Regions from separate parts of the Homo sapiens genome. Here region 2 is linked to region 1. The links come from fine-mapping of genetic effects on gene expression. A gene starts in region 1. The other region holds a variant in brackets. All regions are shown on one strand. Distances are between the middles of the regions.

What was found.
Region 2: its variant is fine-mapped to the expression of GTF2A1L in gastroesophageal junction (GTEx, PIP above 0.99). The same link has a PIP of 0.9 or more in esophagus muscle, ileum, lung, prostate, sigmoid colon and stomach.

The regions. Positions count from the first base shown.
Region 1 is chr2:48,613,714-48,622,267 of GRCh38, forward strand. GTF2A1L (general transcription factor IIA subunit 1 like) reads left to right here and starts at 4,143. Exons shown (of 9, transcript NM_006872.5): 1 at 4,143-4,182; 2 at 7,138-7,239; 3 at 7,454-7,577. The coding sequence starts at 4,162. STON1-GTF2A1L (STON1-GTF2A1L readthrough) reads left to right here. Exons shown (of 11, transcript NM_001198593.2): 4 at 7,138-7,239; 5 at 7,454-7,577. RefSeq lists an enhancer at 1,141-1,644.
Region 2 is chr2:48,591,666-48,600,219 of GRCh38, forward strand. It overlaps STON1-GTF2A1L (STON1-GTF2A1L readthrough), which reads left to right. Exons shown (of 11, transcript NM_001198593.2): 3 at 1-190. It overlaps STON1 (stonin 1), which reads left to right. Exons shown (of 4, transcript NM_006873.4): 3 at 1-190; 4 at 3,563-6,848. The coding sequence ends at 3,637. Among named protein-coding and RNA genes, the nearest start is that of GTF2A1L, 22 kb to the right of the region's middle. The variant G/A (reference allele first, on the strand shown) is at 3,577.

The DNA.
Region 1 (8,554 bases):
CCATAAGCTACCTGAGTATCCTCATGACATGACAGCTGGCTTCCTCCAAAATGAGAGAGTGAGCCCAAGAAAGAATCCACAGCTATGAATAACCTTATCTCAAAGGTGATATGCTACTACTTCTTCTTTTTTTTTTTTATTTTAATTTAATTTTTTTTTTTATTGATCATTCTTGGGTGTTTCTCACAGAGGGGGATTTGGCAGGGTCATAGGACACTAGTGGAGGGAAGGTCAGCAGACAAACAAGTGAACAAAGGTCTCTGTTTTCCTAGGCAGAGTGTTTGTGTCCCTGGGTACTTGAGATTAGGGAGTGGTGATGACTCTTAATGAGCATGCTGCCTTCAAGCATCTGTTTAACAAAGCACATCTTGCACCGCCCTTAATCCATTTAACCCTGAGTGGACACAGCACATGTTTCAGAGAGCACAGGGTTGGGGGTAAGGTCATAGATCAACAGGATCCCAAGGCAGAAGAATTTTTCTTAGTACAGAACAAAATGAAAAGTCTCCCATGTCTACTTCTTTCTACACAGACACGGCAACCATTCGATTTCTCAATCTTTTCCCCACCTTGCCCCCTTTTCTATTCCAGAAAACTGCCATCGTCATCATGGCCCATTCTCAATGAGCTGTTGGGTACACCTCCCAGACGGGGTGGTGGCCGGGCAGAGGGGCTCCTCACTTCCCAGTAGGGGTGGCCGGGCAGAGGCGCCCCTCAGCTCCCGGACTGGGTGGCTGGCCAGGCGGGGGGCTGACCCCCCCACCTCCCTCCCGGACGGGGCGGCTGGCTGGGCAGAGGGGCTCCTGGCTGGGCAGAGGGGCTCCTCACTTCCCAGTAGGGGCGGCCGGGCAGAGGCGCCCCTCACCTCCCGGACGGGGCGGCTGGCCGGGCGGGGGGCTGAGCCCCCCACCTCCCTCCCGGACGGGGCGGCTGCTGGGCGGAGACGCTCCTCACTTCCCAGACGGGGCGGTTGCCAGGCGGAGGGGCTCCTCACTTCTCAGACGGGGCGGTTGCCAGGCGGAGGGTCTCCTCACTTCTCAGACGGGGCGGCCTGGCAGAGACGCTCCTCACCTCCCAGACGGGGTCGCGGCCGGGCCGAGGCCCTCCTCACATCCCAGACGGGGCGGCGGGGCAGAGGCGCTCCCCACATCTCAGACGATGGGCTGCTGGGCAGAGACGCTCCTCACTTCCTAGATGGGATGGGGGCCCGGACGAGGTGCTCCTCACTTCCCAGGTGGGATGGCGGCCGGGCAGAGACGCTCCTCACTTTCCAGACTGGGCAGCCAGGCAGAGACGCTCCTCACTTCCCAGAGGATGGGCAGCCCGGCAGAGACGCTCCTCACTTCCCAGACGGGGTGGCGGCCGGGCAGAGGCTGCAATCTCCGCACTTTGGGAGGCCAAGGCAGGCGGCTGGGAGGTGGAGGCCGTAGCGAGCCGAGATCACGCCACTGCACTCCAGCCTGGGCACCATTGAGCACTGAATGAATGAGACTCCGTCTGCAATCCCGGCACCTCGGGAGGCCGAGGCTGGCGGATCACTGGCGGCTAGGAGGTGGAGACCAGTCCGGCCAACACAGCGAAACCCCGTCCCCACCAAAAAAACACGAAAACCAGTCAGGCGTGGCGGCGCGCGCCTGCAATCGCAGGCACTCGGCAGGCTGAGGCAGGAGAATCAGGCAGGGAGGCTGCAGCGAGCCGAGATGGCAGCAGTACAGTCCAGCTTTGGCCCGGCATGAGAGGGAGACCGTGGAAAGGAGAGGGAGAGGGAGACGGGAGAGGGAGAGGGAGACGGGAGAGGGAGAGGGAGACGGGAGAGGGAGAGGGAGACGGGAGAGGGAGAGGGAGACCTACTTCTTCTTTATTTTAGTGGTAAAATAAACCTACCATGGTACAAGGTAGGAGGGGACAACACCAAGTGGTCAATACCAGGAGGCAGGGATCACTGGGGGCCATCTTGAAAACTGGCTACCACAGGTCCACGTGGCAGATTTGCAACTTGGATTTACCTAGAACTTGTGTTAAAGCATACCTCCTCTAGTAGTCATTGCCTGTTATTGGGAAGAAATGACTAGTGACCATTCAGACAAACTGCAAGGGGCAAATGAAATTTGCTGACATTTCTCTGCTAACATTACATAGCCTCTCCATAACTTGAGTATACTGACTGTACTAAGAAATAACAATTCAACTTTTAGTTACACTTTTTATGGGTACCAAGATCCAAGAATAATTTAAAAAATATACATGATCTACGTATAGTTCTGAGAAGGGCAGAATGTGTAATAAAGTAAAACAGTATGCTGTCACAGAAAGTTAGGTGATTACCAATCCTAAGCATTTAGAAATAAAGCTTTAAAACCTTCCTATGAAAAAGATGGAAAACAAGAGACACTTTTAGCTTTCTTATTTCCCAGCTTGAATAATTTAATTGGATTTTATAATATCAGTAGGAATCAATGACTGCTTTTAGCTTTCCTACTTTGGGTGAAAGATAAGTCACTTTGAACACTCCTGGTAGTAAATTGCCAGGTGGAGAGATATGACCATTAAAATGACCATATATAGTTCTTGGCTTTTTGTAAAAGAAATTTCTAATAGTTTTCAATGTAGGAAAGTTTTCTAAAGGGTATCATATAAATCAGCTACTTGAAACTCACAAACCATAAGGTACCTGACCCAGGCAAATCACATACACAGTGGTAGGGGATAAACAGCTCTACTGCACTTACTTGCACAAATAAATAAATAAACAGCCAATTTTAAATATAATAGAGTTTTTAATCATCAAATAACGTATCCATCTGGTTAGGTCAAGACCTATTTGCAGGATAGAAAGGCTGTTTAGAAGAGTTGTGGCCAAGTGCGGCGAGTCATGCCTATAGTTCCAGCACTTTGGGAGGCTGCGGCTGGTGGATCACTTGAGACCAAGAGTTTGAGACCAGCCTGGGCAACATGGCGAAAACCTGTCTCTACAAAACACACACACACACTCACACACACAAAATAGCTGGGCGTGGTGGCACACACACCTGTAGTCTCAGCTCCTTGGGAGGCTGAAGTCAGTGGGTTGCTTGAGCCCAGGAGGTAGACGCTGCAGCGAGCTGTGATCATGCCACTGCACTGCAGCCTGGGCAACAGTGTGAGACCCTGCCAAAAAGGCAGAGTTGTGGCAACAGATGGTGACTTCTTCCCTTTTCTAATCCTCCAGGTTATCTGTGCTTACATCTTCCCTCAGTCTTAGCTAGGTAACGTATGCCCCAAGATGCTCTGCCCTTCAGGAGAGAGAATTATTGTAGGTAGACAGCTGGTGATTTCTGCCTAACTAAGAAAAGGAGATAGGAACGTATTAGCTGCTGACTTTCTTTTAGCAGTGGTTTTCCACCTTGGCTGCATATTAGAATCAGATTTTGCCGAGTGGGATCCAGGCACTAAACTTTTTTTTAAAGCTCCCCGCGTGATTTTAATGTGCACCCAAAATTGAGACTCTTTGTCTTAGGTCAGGGGGTCTCATGTCAGCGCCCATTGGAATCACCTGGAGAGCATGTTAAAGTTACAGAATGCTAGGCTCCATCCTCCAGTCTGATTCAGGAGGGCTGGGGTGGGACCCATCATTTGCATATTTAACAAGTTCCCAGATGCTGCTGATGCTGCTGTACCACGCTGACAAGTCTTAGAAAAATTTGGCTCTTGTTATATTTTTATACAACAAAAAATGGAGTTCAGCTGTGAGTGGGGTGTAGGGGGAGGAATGAAAATTGGTAAATGCAGAGGACAGATATCACTAGTCTCCCCTCTTTTCTTTCCCCATCTTCTTCAAAGCTGAAGTTAGACTGAGATCTACCCCTGCATTTCCCCTCCTCGATTTTCATCTTTCACGGATTGAGGAAACAACCTGTGAACGGCCCAAAGCCGGCTAGACCCAACCTAACCATCCGTTTTAGCGGGTCTCTTTTCTCACACAGGCCGACCGCCTCTCCGCCTTGACCCCCACCTCCACTCAAACCCGCTCCATCTATTAACGTTCTCTTCTGCCCAGCCACGCCCCCGGCGTTCTCCGTGGTTGCGCACCTGACGTACATCGTTCAAAACGTGCCCAGTGTTTCCCTCCGAGGGCACTGCGTGCCGCGCAGGCGCAAAGGGCCAGGTGCTGGAGGTGCTGTCATGGCCTGCCTCAACCCGGTGGTAAGGAAGACCTCAGGCTCTGTGTAGAGGGAGCGCCCTGGGACTCCGGGTTCACGGCAGCCGAACCCTGCACCTTTTGTTTCCCCCTGACACTTTACAGATTGTCATAAACCCTCTCTCTTCCTTAGGGGCTGGGGCTCTTCTTCACGTCTGTGTTGGAGGAAGCTGCTGAGGGCCAGTAGTTCAGCAGGAAGTTGGGCCAGCCCCGCCAAAAGAACAAGTGCCCTTTTTCTCTTTTTACCCAAACTGAGGCTATCTAGTTGGGGTGTTTAGAGGTGGAACTGATCCTCAACCCTGCTGGTTTCCTAGATACTAGAAAACCTCCAAGTTCGGTTGTGTTAATTTTACCGTGGACATTGTTAATTCCAAGCTGTATTATTTACTGCTTGAAATAACAATGTGATATCTCATGTTACCTCCCCACATGTTTTTAGTGTCTTTCACTACCCGCCCATTTCGTTGTCCTTTAACAACTTAATGCTTAAGTGTACAACCTACATTACCCTCCTACCTCTAACGGACACTTAATTTGCACAGTGAGAATTTCTAGTCTCAGTGGCACTTAGGAGACCATCAATCTTAAAAACCTGAATCAAAGAACAAAAATCAAGGATTCATCTTTATTACCAATTCATCTCAACAGACTTCACATTTCGTGAAAGGCAATGTGCCTGTCCAGATCTGTGTAATTTTATGGGTTCCGGGTATTATATATGCAGTATAACAGCTCCATTTTTAGAGACATGCTACTTTAATTATATGTGTTTTATGATAGTGCGTTTTAAGATACATAAAATACCTATACTCTGCCTGAATATAAGGTTACTATGTATGCCAATTTATCTGATTGTGAATTCTATGAAGGAGTGTCTGTATTTTAAATAGAGGAGTTAAGATGGACTAGACATAGTTTTAATAACAGGGATGCAATACAAAGTCTGTGGTCATAGAAGAGAAAATATGTTCAATACCTATTTTGATTTCTGAAAAACTGTGTTCTAATGGGTACTTTTTGACTACTGCTGTGTTAAGATTTTTTAGACCTAAGAGTTTTTTCCTTCGGTGTTAAGCGTGATCACACTAGCTGGGACTACCACTGAAGCATCAATTTAGTATGCCTTTATCAGGATAAACTGTTTTAGAAGAAGCACCTAATTTAGGGGCATTTAGTCTTAATGCATGTGCTTGTGAATAACATTATTTAAATGTTACTGATTGGCCTATTCGTATAGGTTTACCCTGGGTCTTTAGAAGGATTAAAGCATAGCTTTAAATACTAAATACTCTTAGGGGCTGGGCACGGTGGCTTACACCTGTAATCCCAGCACCTTGGAAGGTCGAGGTGGGCAGATCACTTGAGCTTAGGAGTTTGAGACCAGCCTGGCCAACATGGTGAAACCCCATCTCTACTAAAAATACAAAAAATTAGCCAGGTGAGGTCGTGCACGCCTGTAGTGCCAGCTACTCTGGATGCTGAGACAGGAGAATCACTTGAACTTAGGAGGCAGATGTTGCAGTGGGCCCAGATTGTGCTACCGTACTCCAGCCTGGGTGACAGAGCAAGACTCCATCTCAAAAAAAAAAAAATAATAATAATAATAAAAAAAAAGCACAGCTACTCTTGGCATGAACAGGAGTATTTAGGAGTATTTATTTAGTACTCTTAATGAGTACTGAATAGGGTAGGATGAAAAGGCAATCCTAGAGTGCCACAATTTTCATTTTGGCGTGATTAAGCAATTTGAAATAAGAGCAACTCAACTAAATTCCTGCTTTGCTGTTTCTTGCCGGTGGAACTTCCACTAAGTCAGTATTGTCAGCACATAGCATTGCCATTTTGGCCTGGGGGCATAGTTTATATAGATATGAAGGGCTGAGTTTTTTCACATACCCTCTTTTTTGTTGCTATAACTAGTGTTTAATCTGGGTAGAAATCTGCTTAATTTCATTGTCATGGCATGTTTGACTAGGAGGTATTTTAGAATGTTATTTGGTCTCTTCAGTATGCACACTGTGGATGGGTAAGGTTGTTCGTGCCCTTCTTAGGTTCTGGTAGGAAATCCGTTTTGGAACAGGTGTATTTGATAATGGTCCAGAATATATATTTTTTGGACTTTGTGTATTTTGGAAGTGAGATGAGCTTTAATTGCTCTATTTTAAGTGTTTACCCCAGTTTTCTGGCTTGGAGTTTATTTATATTTGTGGAAATAATATAGTGAACCCTAAAAAATTCTCCTTTGGCCACTTTGATAAAGAGGTAAATTGAAAACAGAAGGTCTATTTCTGGTTGACTTACATTAATTTCCCTTTTAAAAGGAGTTGAGGAGGTTAAATACTGACACAAAAGGCAAGTAACATGACAATAACCATGCATCTTTGAGATTATTAGCTCATATGTTATTGTAGTTCTGTAATTCAGTCTTGTAGATAGGCTGAGACTATGGGTCTGAAGCTAACACAGTTTATGGAAAGCTAAGACTATATTGGGAATAGGAATGTACATAGTAAAAGTTTTAATGGTGACTTCACAAGACTAGAAGGTATGCACTGCATATCTTTTAAGGCCAAATATGTTCTAACTTGAGAAGTCAGAACTTTAACAGGCCGGGTGTGGTGGCTCATGCCTGTAATCCCAGCACTTTGGGAGGCTGAGGCGGGTGGATCACGAGGCCAGGAGTTCGAGACCAGCCTGACCATCATGGTGAAACCCTGTCTCTCTAAAAATACAAAAATTAGCGGGGCATGGTGGCATGCACCTGTAATCGCACCTACTCAGGAGGCTGAGGCAGGAGAATTGCTTGAACCTGGGACGTGGAAATTGCAGTGAACTGAGTTCGTGCCACCGCACTCCAGCCTGGGCAACAGAGCATGACTCCATCTCAAGAATAAATAAATAAATAAATAAATAAATAAATAAATAAATAAAATGAAACTTTAACAATTGCTTTTATGTAGCCTAAACTCTACAGATCTGTAATTGAAGATGTAATTGAAGGAGTTCGGAATCTATTTGCTGAAGAAGGTATAGAGGAACAAGTTTTAAAAGACTTGAAGCAGGTTTGTAGCCGATACAACTTTTTCTTCCTGTCTTTTGTTGTTTTTTTCAGCATACAAAACTGATATAGTTCTGATCTCTCAAATTATAGTTTAGTACTTACCCATTCATTGTGCCATCAGGATGACGTTAGTTTTTAAGAAACTGAAAAAAAGAGAAGTATCATTATATGTGTATATATTTTTTTAAAGTAAACTTTTTTTTTCCCCTCTGCAGCTCTGGGAAACCAAGGTTTTGCAGTCTAAAGCAACAGAAGACTTCTTCAGAAATAGCATCCAATCACCTCTGTTTACTCTTCAGTTGCCGCACAGCTTGCACCAAACATTGCAATCGTCAACAGGTTGGATACCATTAGTAAATGAGTACTGTTAGTATCTTCAGAACAAATTCTCATTTGGGAATGTTTTTCAGTTAGACAGGGTAATGTTCTTAGGGTGAGAAGGCTTGGACACCTAAATCATTTCTATTAAATGAACACAGTATAAATCATTGCCCCATGTAATTATTGATTAAAAACTCAGGTTATTCGAACTAGTTTTTATTTTAAATATTAAATTTTACAAAGATGATAAAGCCTTTCTTTAGAGGAAAGTCACATAGTTTGTCAGCTGTTGGGAGCACCCATTGGTAATTTCAGATAATTTGACTGGGTCTAGTCAAGGATTAGAAGTGGCAGAGGGAAAGGTGAGTGCTTGCAAGTTTGTGTGTTCTCTTTCTCTTATTTTTTGTGTATATTATAAATCTGATATATTGGGAGCAAAATGGAGAGTTCAGAATATGGAGATTATTCAGGCTACCTCACTGTTTTGGATATATAAAATAATGGCTAGAAATTGATCATGTGCATTTATCTTTATTCTTGGACTTAGCAAATCTAGACTTCTGCTTTTAAGGGAAATGTTTGTCCACATTATGCGTATCAATTTAAACTGGAAGGGACTAGCTAATAAAAGATAAAACTTAAGAGTTTTCTATCCTTGTATGCTTGATTCCTTTCTTTTTCTTCTGATTCTTATAATCTTTATGTTACTCATATGTGTATATATAAATGTATACTCGCATACAAACAAGTTTTATTGGGTTTAGCTGAAATTCAGCAGAGTAGTCTGCAAGAAGTGAGGGTAGATTTTGGATTGGATTATCAGTAATAAGCAGATAGTTCTTTGCATGCTTGGGAAAATTCACATGAAAATTACATGGGCCAAGGTGAAGAGAACATTGTAAGGATGCTTGTACTTCTTCTATTACAAAGTGGGAGAATTTACATGTGGCAGCAATTCTAACATATAAAAATGAATAAATTAACAATGAATGTTG
Region 2 (8,554 bases), 22 kb before region 1:
CCATTGTCTGTCATACAAATTAGAGCTTGGATCAGACCAAGAAATTCCCTCTGATTGGTATCCATTTGCTACTGTTCAGTTTTCCGTGCCTGACACCTGTGCCTCAAGGACAGAGGTCAGGTCTCTGGGAGTGGAGAGTGATGTCCAGCCACAGAAACATGTTCAGCAGCGAGCTTGCTACAACATCCAGGTACATCCCAAAACTTCTAGAACTGTGACCTGATTTGGCTTTAAATATTTGTTTTGCTGTCTTTTGTGATCGTGTATGTGTTGTGTGTGTGTGTATATGTGTGGTGAGATTTGCCCTAGAGAGGATCTCAGCTATGGAAACTTGATGGCCACCATTGAGCTTAGTTCTTCCTATCCATTCTGGAGAATGTTGGGAACACTTAATAATTTAGCTCTCAATGAAAAACAGGACATTAAAAATGAATCTACATTTTAGAAGCATATTTATAATAAAAATTATGATGTTAGGACACCATTTCTCAAAATATGTGCTGCAGAACATGTGTCCCATATAATTATCCAACAAAAGAATAAGTTGGGGAATGCCGTATACTAAATTAATGTTAAATAAAGGCTCCCAAGAAGTCCTGCAATAAGGAAACTTGTTAAACTTAGTTAACCCAGTTTTTCCCAACTCATTGGCTATTGTGTCTTGTCTTTGTGGGTATGTGTATGTAAAACACTTATCCCTATCTTGTGGAATAGTGTTCTGTGGAGCATGCTTTAGGAAATGCTGAGTTACTCTATTATGGTAGTTTTCAGTTTTTTTTTTTTTAAGACGGCATCTCACTCTGTCACCCAGGCTGGAGTGCAGTGGCATTATCTTGGCTCACTGCAACCTCCGCCTCCTGGGTCCAAGCGATTCTCCTGCCTCAGCCTCTCAAGTAACTGGGATTACAGCCACCCACCACCACACCCAGCTATTATTATTATTATTATTATTATTATTATTATTATTCTATTTTTAGTAGAGATGGGGTTTTGCCATGTTGGCCAGGCTGGTCTCAAACTCCCGACCTTAGGTAATCTGACCCTCTCGGCCTCCCCAAGTGCTGGGATTACAGGCGTAAGCCACCATGCCTAGCCTATTGGTAGCTTAAAGTTTTATTTTAAATTTTTAAATAGAGATGGGATCTCACTATGTTGGTCAGGCTGGTCTCAAATTCCTGGTCTCAAGTGATCCTCCTGCCTCGGCCTCCCAAAGTGCTGGGATTACAAGCGTGAGCCACCGTATCCAGCCTGGTATTATGGTAGTTTTAAATGTTTGCCATCAGCTCTTCTGCATTCTTAGGCAGATGAACTAAAGGAGGACATACACTTACATCTGTTTCTAAACTTGTTTTCCCTTCTTATCCTCAAGTTTAGTAGATATATGGATGTCTCCTGCCACATATTTCCCACAGTATCTTGAAATGGTGATGCATCTTGCTGATTTTGTTTAAAAGGTTTTCTTTATTTTGAGACAGAGTCTTGCTCTGTTGCCCAGGTTGGAGTGCAGTGGCATGGTCTCGGCTCACTGCAACCTCCGCTTCCTAGGTTCAAGTAATTCTCCTGCCTCAGCCTCCCGAGTAGCTGGGATTACAGGTGCCTGCCACCACGCCTGGCTAATTTTTTGTGTTTATAGTAGAGATGGGGTTTCACCATGTTGGCCAGGCTGGTCTCGAACTCCTGACCTTGTGATCTGTCTGCCTCGGCCTCCCAAAGTGCTGGGATTAGAGGTGTGAGCCACCACACCTGGCCTAAAAGTATTTTTAACTAGAAAATATTTCAAAAATCACAAAAATTAAATAGTGCATTACAGACAGGTGGTTCAGTTTAGAATGTATGTTTCCCTTCTGTCTTTCACATGAGCAACATTTTATAATTTCTAATAGCATTTATTTTATTTTTAAAAATTTAAATTTTGCCTGTTACACAGCCCTCAGGAGGTCCTGAGAACATGTGCCTCTCAAATAGCATTTTAAAATCTATGTGTTGCTTGACTTGCAGCAAAGATTAATGCCATTCTGATTTTCTACTAATTTATTTCTATTAAAAATAGTGATATTATACATGACATCGCTAATATCAACTGGGTTTCCTATACTATAGTAATGTGAGTCAGGATTTTTCTTTATTTTGGACTATCTGTTTAGAAGTCTATGTTTGGGTCCAGTTATCTTTTTCTACTGATAAAAGTAATGATAGGTAGTGCTGTCCTGTGCAGCCCCTTCAGACCTGAAGGATGTATTTCCCCAGCAGGTGGGAATTGCCGCCGCTGAAGATAGCTGCCTTTCCTGAGGTCATGCCTCCTTCCTGGAATCTATGCAGGGGTGTATAGGCCCCTTTGCATCAACTTGGGCTAACGCTGTAGGTCAGCCCAGCTTCAGCTCTCCAGGGCATGGACAGAAGCCTTCATTCTGACTACATTGCATCCCAGCTTCTCTCTCTGCCCATTTAGCTTCATTTCCTGCCTCACTCCCCCATGAATGTTGAACTCAACGGCACTCTCCAGTAAACTTTCTGCACACAGATCTCCATCTCAGAGTTTATTTCTTGGGGAACCTGACCTATAACACTAGGTATATATATATTATGTGTGACTGAAATGTGGGTCAAGTGGCATGGAGACTGTGTTTATACTTATTTTCCTATTCACAGGGCATGCCAGGTTCATGCAATTTTAGTGGACAATTAAAAATTACTTTACAAAGTATCTCTTGCTTTAGTAGCATTTACTAGTTGATGTGCACCTGGTGGCAGTTTCAAAATGTTTTCTTCCATTTAGTAATTATCTGTTGCCAGATACTGCTCCACATGCAGGGACACAGCAGTGTGAACAGAGAGACAAAGTCCCTGTCCTCATGGAGCATAGTTTCTAGTGGGGGTAAACGAAAAATAGTTAGTAGATAAATAAATAAATAAATATGATTTCAACTAATAACAAATTCCAAGAAGGTAATAAAATAGGGTAACGGGATAGAGAGTGACTGGAGGGCTTTATCAGGGGTAGTCCTGGAGGACCTCCAGGAGGATGTGACATTTGAGCTGAGACAAAAATGATGAAGAGCAGATGGTTTACTATTAGGTTGCTGCAAAAGTAATCACGGTTTTTGCCATTAGTTTTGCAGCAACCTAATAGTTTGTAAGATGGCTTGTTTCAATTAGATAATTTTGGGTGCATTATAAATCTTAAGGGGGCCAATGGCTAGATACATGATACAGCCATATATTCAGGTAGAGGGATAATTGATCATATGTCTAGTCAGATCTGTAAATTTTTTTTCAGTATACATATTCTGTATACATTTTATAAAAACTACGTTTGACTTAGAAGACAGTTTTGGTGCTCTTGAAGACTTGACCCTGGCGGGGAGGATTTGAGGGGCTCTGTTGTTCAAAAGGAGAGCAGAGCGCCTCACTTGGAAGCTACTGTAGGAGGGTAGAGGGCTGTGTCTGTGTCCAAAGGGTGAGGTTTGTGCAGTCTGTGCCACATGTATAAAATAGGACTGAAGAGGTGTGAGTGCTGTGTTGCATTTGTTAATGCTGCCTGTGTTTTGCTTTTGCATAACAGGTTGAAATAGAAAA[G/A]AAGTGGATTAAAATCGATGGAGAAGACCCAGATAAAATTGGTGACTGCATAACTCAGTAGGAGTAGCAAGAGTTTATGATGACAGCCCACTTGTCAAATATGTAATTCACCGAAACCACACCAAGTCCTGCTACTGTAGAGTGGAAATGACTTCTGAATAGCGGTTTTAGGACAGGTCTGATGGCTGTGTTTAGAGAAGTTTAGACCTAAAACCGAACAATCTGTATTTTTTGCTTTTCATGTGTTTTTGTCCTAGGGGTTCGATCTAAAATGTTTCTATAATTCGTGTGATGTTTTGCTTCCTATTGAAACTCAAAGGCACTGTTACTCGTTGTGTGACCCCGCAGCCAGTATGATTTTTGATTACTCAGTGGCTGACTGTTTTGCTCTCTGGATTACTGAGGTGCCGTCTTCATTTCTTCCCATCTCTTCTTGCTGCTTAGTGTCTGTACTAGAGGGTAAGGGAATCAAAGGAGACATAAACCAAAATAGTTAATTTTCCCTCTTTCTTGCCTCTGAAATGTGGCTAGGTGTAGAATGATGTTGAAACCACAGGCTAAAATGTAGATCTGGAAGTATCTGTGCTTTTGAATTACTTATTTACCTGTCCTCTTACCGTTGGTAAATAATAATTGGCTATATTTGGTACCTGTCTCTCTCCTACTGTATTGTCATTTTCAAAATGTGTTTGTTTTCTGGCGCGTGCTGCAAAGAAGCTATTTCTGTTGTCCTACATATTTTAGTATAAATCACTAAGACATATTTCCTTTCACTTGGCAGGATTCCTTTCAAAATGGAATCTGAGTATTAGACACTAGTTAACATATTTGTGTATATTAAATATGAATTTTTAAAATTTATAAATACTATTTTCCAAAAGTACAGACTCTAAGGACATATTTTGATAAAGTATTATTTGTAATGAACACAAGCCTCTCTTGAGTAGAAGTCTAAATCACATTATGATTATTTTATACTAGTTCTGCTATCATGCTGTTTTATGCTAATTCTGCTTATTTTAGAGTATTTTTCATTAAAAGGTGAGCAAAGTGAAAGATACTTGGTATTTTACCCAGATTTCTAAGTGGCAACATTTTTATTCTTCAGAGTCAGGTAAATGACTATAATAGTTTGGTTTCTAATGAAAAGTCAATAGCATTAGCAGTTATAATTCTGTTTATAATTTCCTTTCAGCATTTACAGTGAAAAGTGAGAATTTTAAAATTTATGAAATCTATATTCCAGGTATTGTTTTTAGTCTGAAAAACAAACTCCCCCATGTGGTATTAATATACCTTCAATTTATGTTGAGTCTTAAACATAATTAGGAGATATTTTTCTCTATTTGCTAGATTTGTTTTGAGTCAAAACTGATTTAGTGTTCTTCCAAACAACATTTATGTGTTGGCCTACAGAGTTTATTTCATGTGTTTTTTTTAATATTTAATATTATATTACATTCATTGAAATCTGTTCAAAAACAGATTAAGACAAACATTTATGATGGTCTGTATCAATCAGCAGATTTTATTGCTTTTCATTATTTTACTGTAAAGGCAAAGAATGCAATAGGTGATGGTTGGTTGAAAGGAATTGTTATTGCTGTTTTTATTTTTTACTTTTTTTGAGACAGAGTCTCACTCTGTTGCCCAGCCTGGAGTGCAGTGTGTCATCTTGGCTCACTGCAACCTCCGCCTCCTGGGTTCAAGGGATTCTCCTGCCTCAGCCTCCAACTAGCTGGGATTACAGGCACAAGCCACCATGCCTGGCTAAAATTCTTTTGTATTTTTACTACAGACGGAGTTTCCCCATGTTGGCCGGGCTAGTCTCGAACTCCTGACCTCAGGTGATCCACCAGCCTCGGCCTCCCAAAGTTCTGGGATTAAATGCGTGAGCCACCATGCCCGGCCGCTATTGCTCTTTTTAACTTCATTTGATGCCTTGCTTATAATATCATATGCTTGAGGCTCACTGTTGATGTAGAGTAGGGCAAATCTGTGTGTGTATGTCATTAAAAAAATTCTACCATCTTTCTTTATCATCTGGTGTGGGCGCACTCTACAGTGACTTCAGTCTGCTCAGAACGAATGTGGAGGCCGGCCGAAACTGATGCTGCCCACAGTCCCAGTGAAGTTAGGTGGGTTAATTACTGCCATTCCTTTCTAAGTGTGTTTTATGGCATCCTGCCCACAAAGAACTCACAGTCTGATTAGGATGAACTTAATGACTATTTACACCTCAAAATATATTCAGCAAAGGGTTCACTTAGTTGCCCCTCATGCTTCACAGGTTGACTAGTATCTGTGGGTACCTCCCTGCCCAGGTTATTCACTCACAAGCCACCGGGCCTTCAGGACATCTCAAGATTCAGTCTTGACAATATAATAGCAAAAGCTGGACTAAAGCCCAAATGGATTGTCTGTGGCAATGCAGAAGCTGATAGCATTAACAGCAGGGTGTTACAGCATAATTGTTAATTCGCACATCTATTAGGATCCTTAAATATTCATTACTTAATGTTAAATTAACATTCTGTGTAGGGAGGGGAGGCTTATTCAATTCTTCTGACCTCAGAACTGGCAGAAGGTCAGATGTGACTACAGAACTCTAGGTGAAAAATCAGGTAGGGTTCAAATTAAGTAGAACTGCCCTTGCCGGAATAGTGATCTTCAAAAAACCCTTGCTTTTAGGGGAGGGAAGCGGGGAAGGAAAGGAATGAGGGAGGAAATATTCCTTTCTAGCATTCATTTTGCTTAGATCACTCCATTGTGAGTTTGACCATTTTGGAGTCAAATGAGCAGACTTCCAAGGAGTTGACCAGTTTGTGACTAGTCTGGTCACCTTTCCAGTTACAGGATCATATTAACTGTGTAAATGAATTCATGGGTAGATGATTTGTGCAGATCTGAATTTAAGAACATTTCCTTTTTCTGTGGGAATCACAAGAGTTTATCCACTAAAAAAAGATATGTAAAAAAGATACTTTCCAGCACATAAATAAAGGCTGGAATTTTACAACCTGATGTATATATTAGACAGTTCTAGGATGTTAGTTCCCTTCATTCCAGAGCTATGCTTGTGATACAGCCCCTTTTCTTATAAAGTCAGTTAGAAGGACTTCCTTAACAATGACTATTATAATGTCTTACTTAAAATACAGTTTTGTATTCTGTCAATGCAAATATAAGACAGGTTGAGCCTTAATCATGTAACAAAATATTTTGTAGATTACATATTGATTTTTCAAAAATTAAAAATGTATTTCAAACTATTCTTACTGTGCTGTGAATTTATATCTTCTTCTGCAAGACCTGGGGCTATTTTTTTTTCTTAAGGTATGAAATCAATTTCAATAACCTTAAACAATTGACCCTCTGTCAGGCATATGTCAGGCTCCACTCTTAAGGAGTCAGTGACCATGACCTCTTTGCATATCCTGGAAAAATGACATCATCAAAGTATAGTTGATAATGTTATAAAGGATGATTTTAAAAATAGGGTATAATCATGACTCACAAAGATATGAGGCTGGGTGTGGTGGCTCACGCCTGTAATCCCAGCTCTTTGGGAGGCTGAAGCGGGTGGATCATGAGGTCAGAAGATCAAGACCATACTGGCTAACACGGTGAAACCCCGTCTCTACTAAAAATACAAAAAAAAAAAAAAAAAAAAAAAAAAAATTAGTTGGGCGTGGTGGCGGGCGCCTATAGTCCCAGCTACTGGGGAGGCTGAGGCAGGAGAATGGTGTGAACCCGGGAGGCGGAGCTTGCAGTGAGCAGAGATTGCGCCACTGCACTCCAGTCTGGGCAACAGAGTGAGACTCCATCTCAAAAAAAAAAAAAAAAAAAAAAAAAGAAATATATGAAATGAATACATGCATAAGATTACCACTATTCAAAGCCTTTCACAATTTTTCCTTGAAAACAGGAAAAACTTTGTCCACAGAATTCCATGGAATTTTCAACCTTTGGCAACTTGTAGAGTAGTCCTGTAGAATTAATGTGCACCTAAAAGCCACATTTTTAAAGTTTAGAAAACCAGTTTTACAAAATTGCACAGAATATATATCAGGTAAGATATACGTGTGGGTGGTAGGGAGTTGGGGGAGAGTGGAGGAGAGTTGTGCGGGAGTGGAGGGAGGCTGTAGGAGATATGAAGGGAATCAGTGCTTATAAAGGACGAACCTAACAACCTCTCCACCCTCCTTTTTATAAGAAATCTGCCTTGTGTTGAAATTAAATTTTTATTGAGCTACTAAAGTTAATATTTCAAAAAGGCATCAGTACTTCATAGAAGACAGAGCATGAAGCACCATTTTAGCCACTGCTAGCACTCACAAGGCTTGGCCCTAGTTCTTCAGGAACAGCAAAAGGATTGACTGGCAAAAACTGACCATATTTGTAACAACAGTCCTCAAAATCCCATCAATCAATTCTTCCCTGTTTTGTCTCAACTCTGGCTAGACTGTCCCACCGCTTTTGTGTAGACACAGGGTAGATTTTGATGTTGTCTCTCCTAGACCCTCCCCATCCTCTGCAACTACTGTATTCCAAGGAACTTATACCCTTAGCCAGGGCCCTAAAACACAGGGTTATGTGTATTCTGTTGAATCATATGTAATCGCCAATATTTACCTTTCTTGATGGGAATTTCACGGGCTCAATCTAATTATCCACATATTTCCCTAGGTCATATGATACAAGCACTTTTTGTTATCCTGCTTAGAAATGGCAATGAAATATGAATTTGACTAATTTTTAAAGCAAGACAGAGTTGCTAGTCAAGAAGCAAATAGTTGAATTACAAAAATCCATAGATACAAGCTACAGATAATATTGTGCCTTTAAAATCATCTGTAAGGAATGTAATCATTTTCCTCTGTAAGGAAAAGGAAAACTGATTAGATTAATTGCCCCAAGTTTTAAAATATTTCAGTTCATTTCCGTGAGACTTCCTGGGGAAGAAAGGCACAGCATC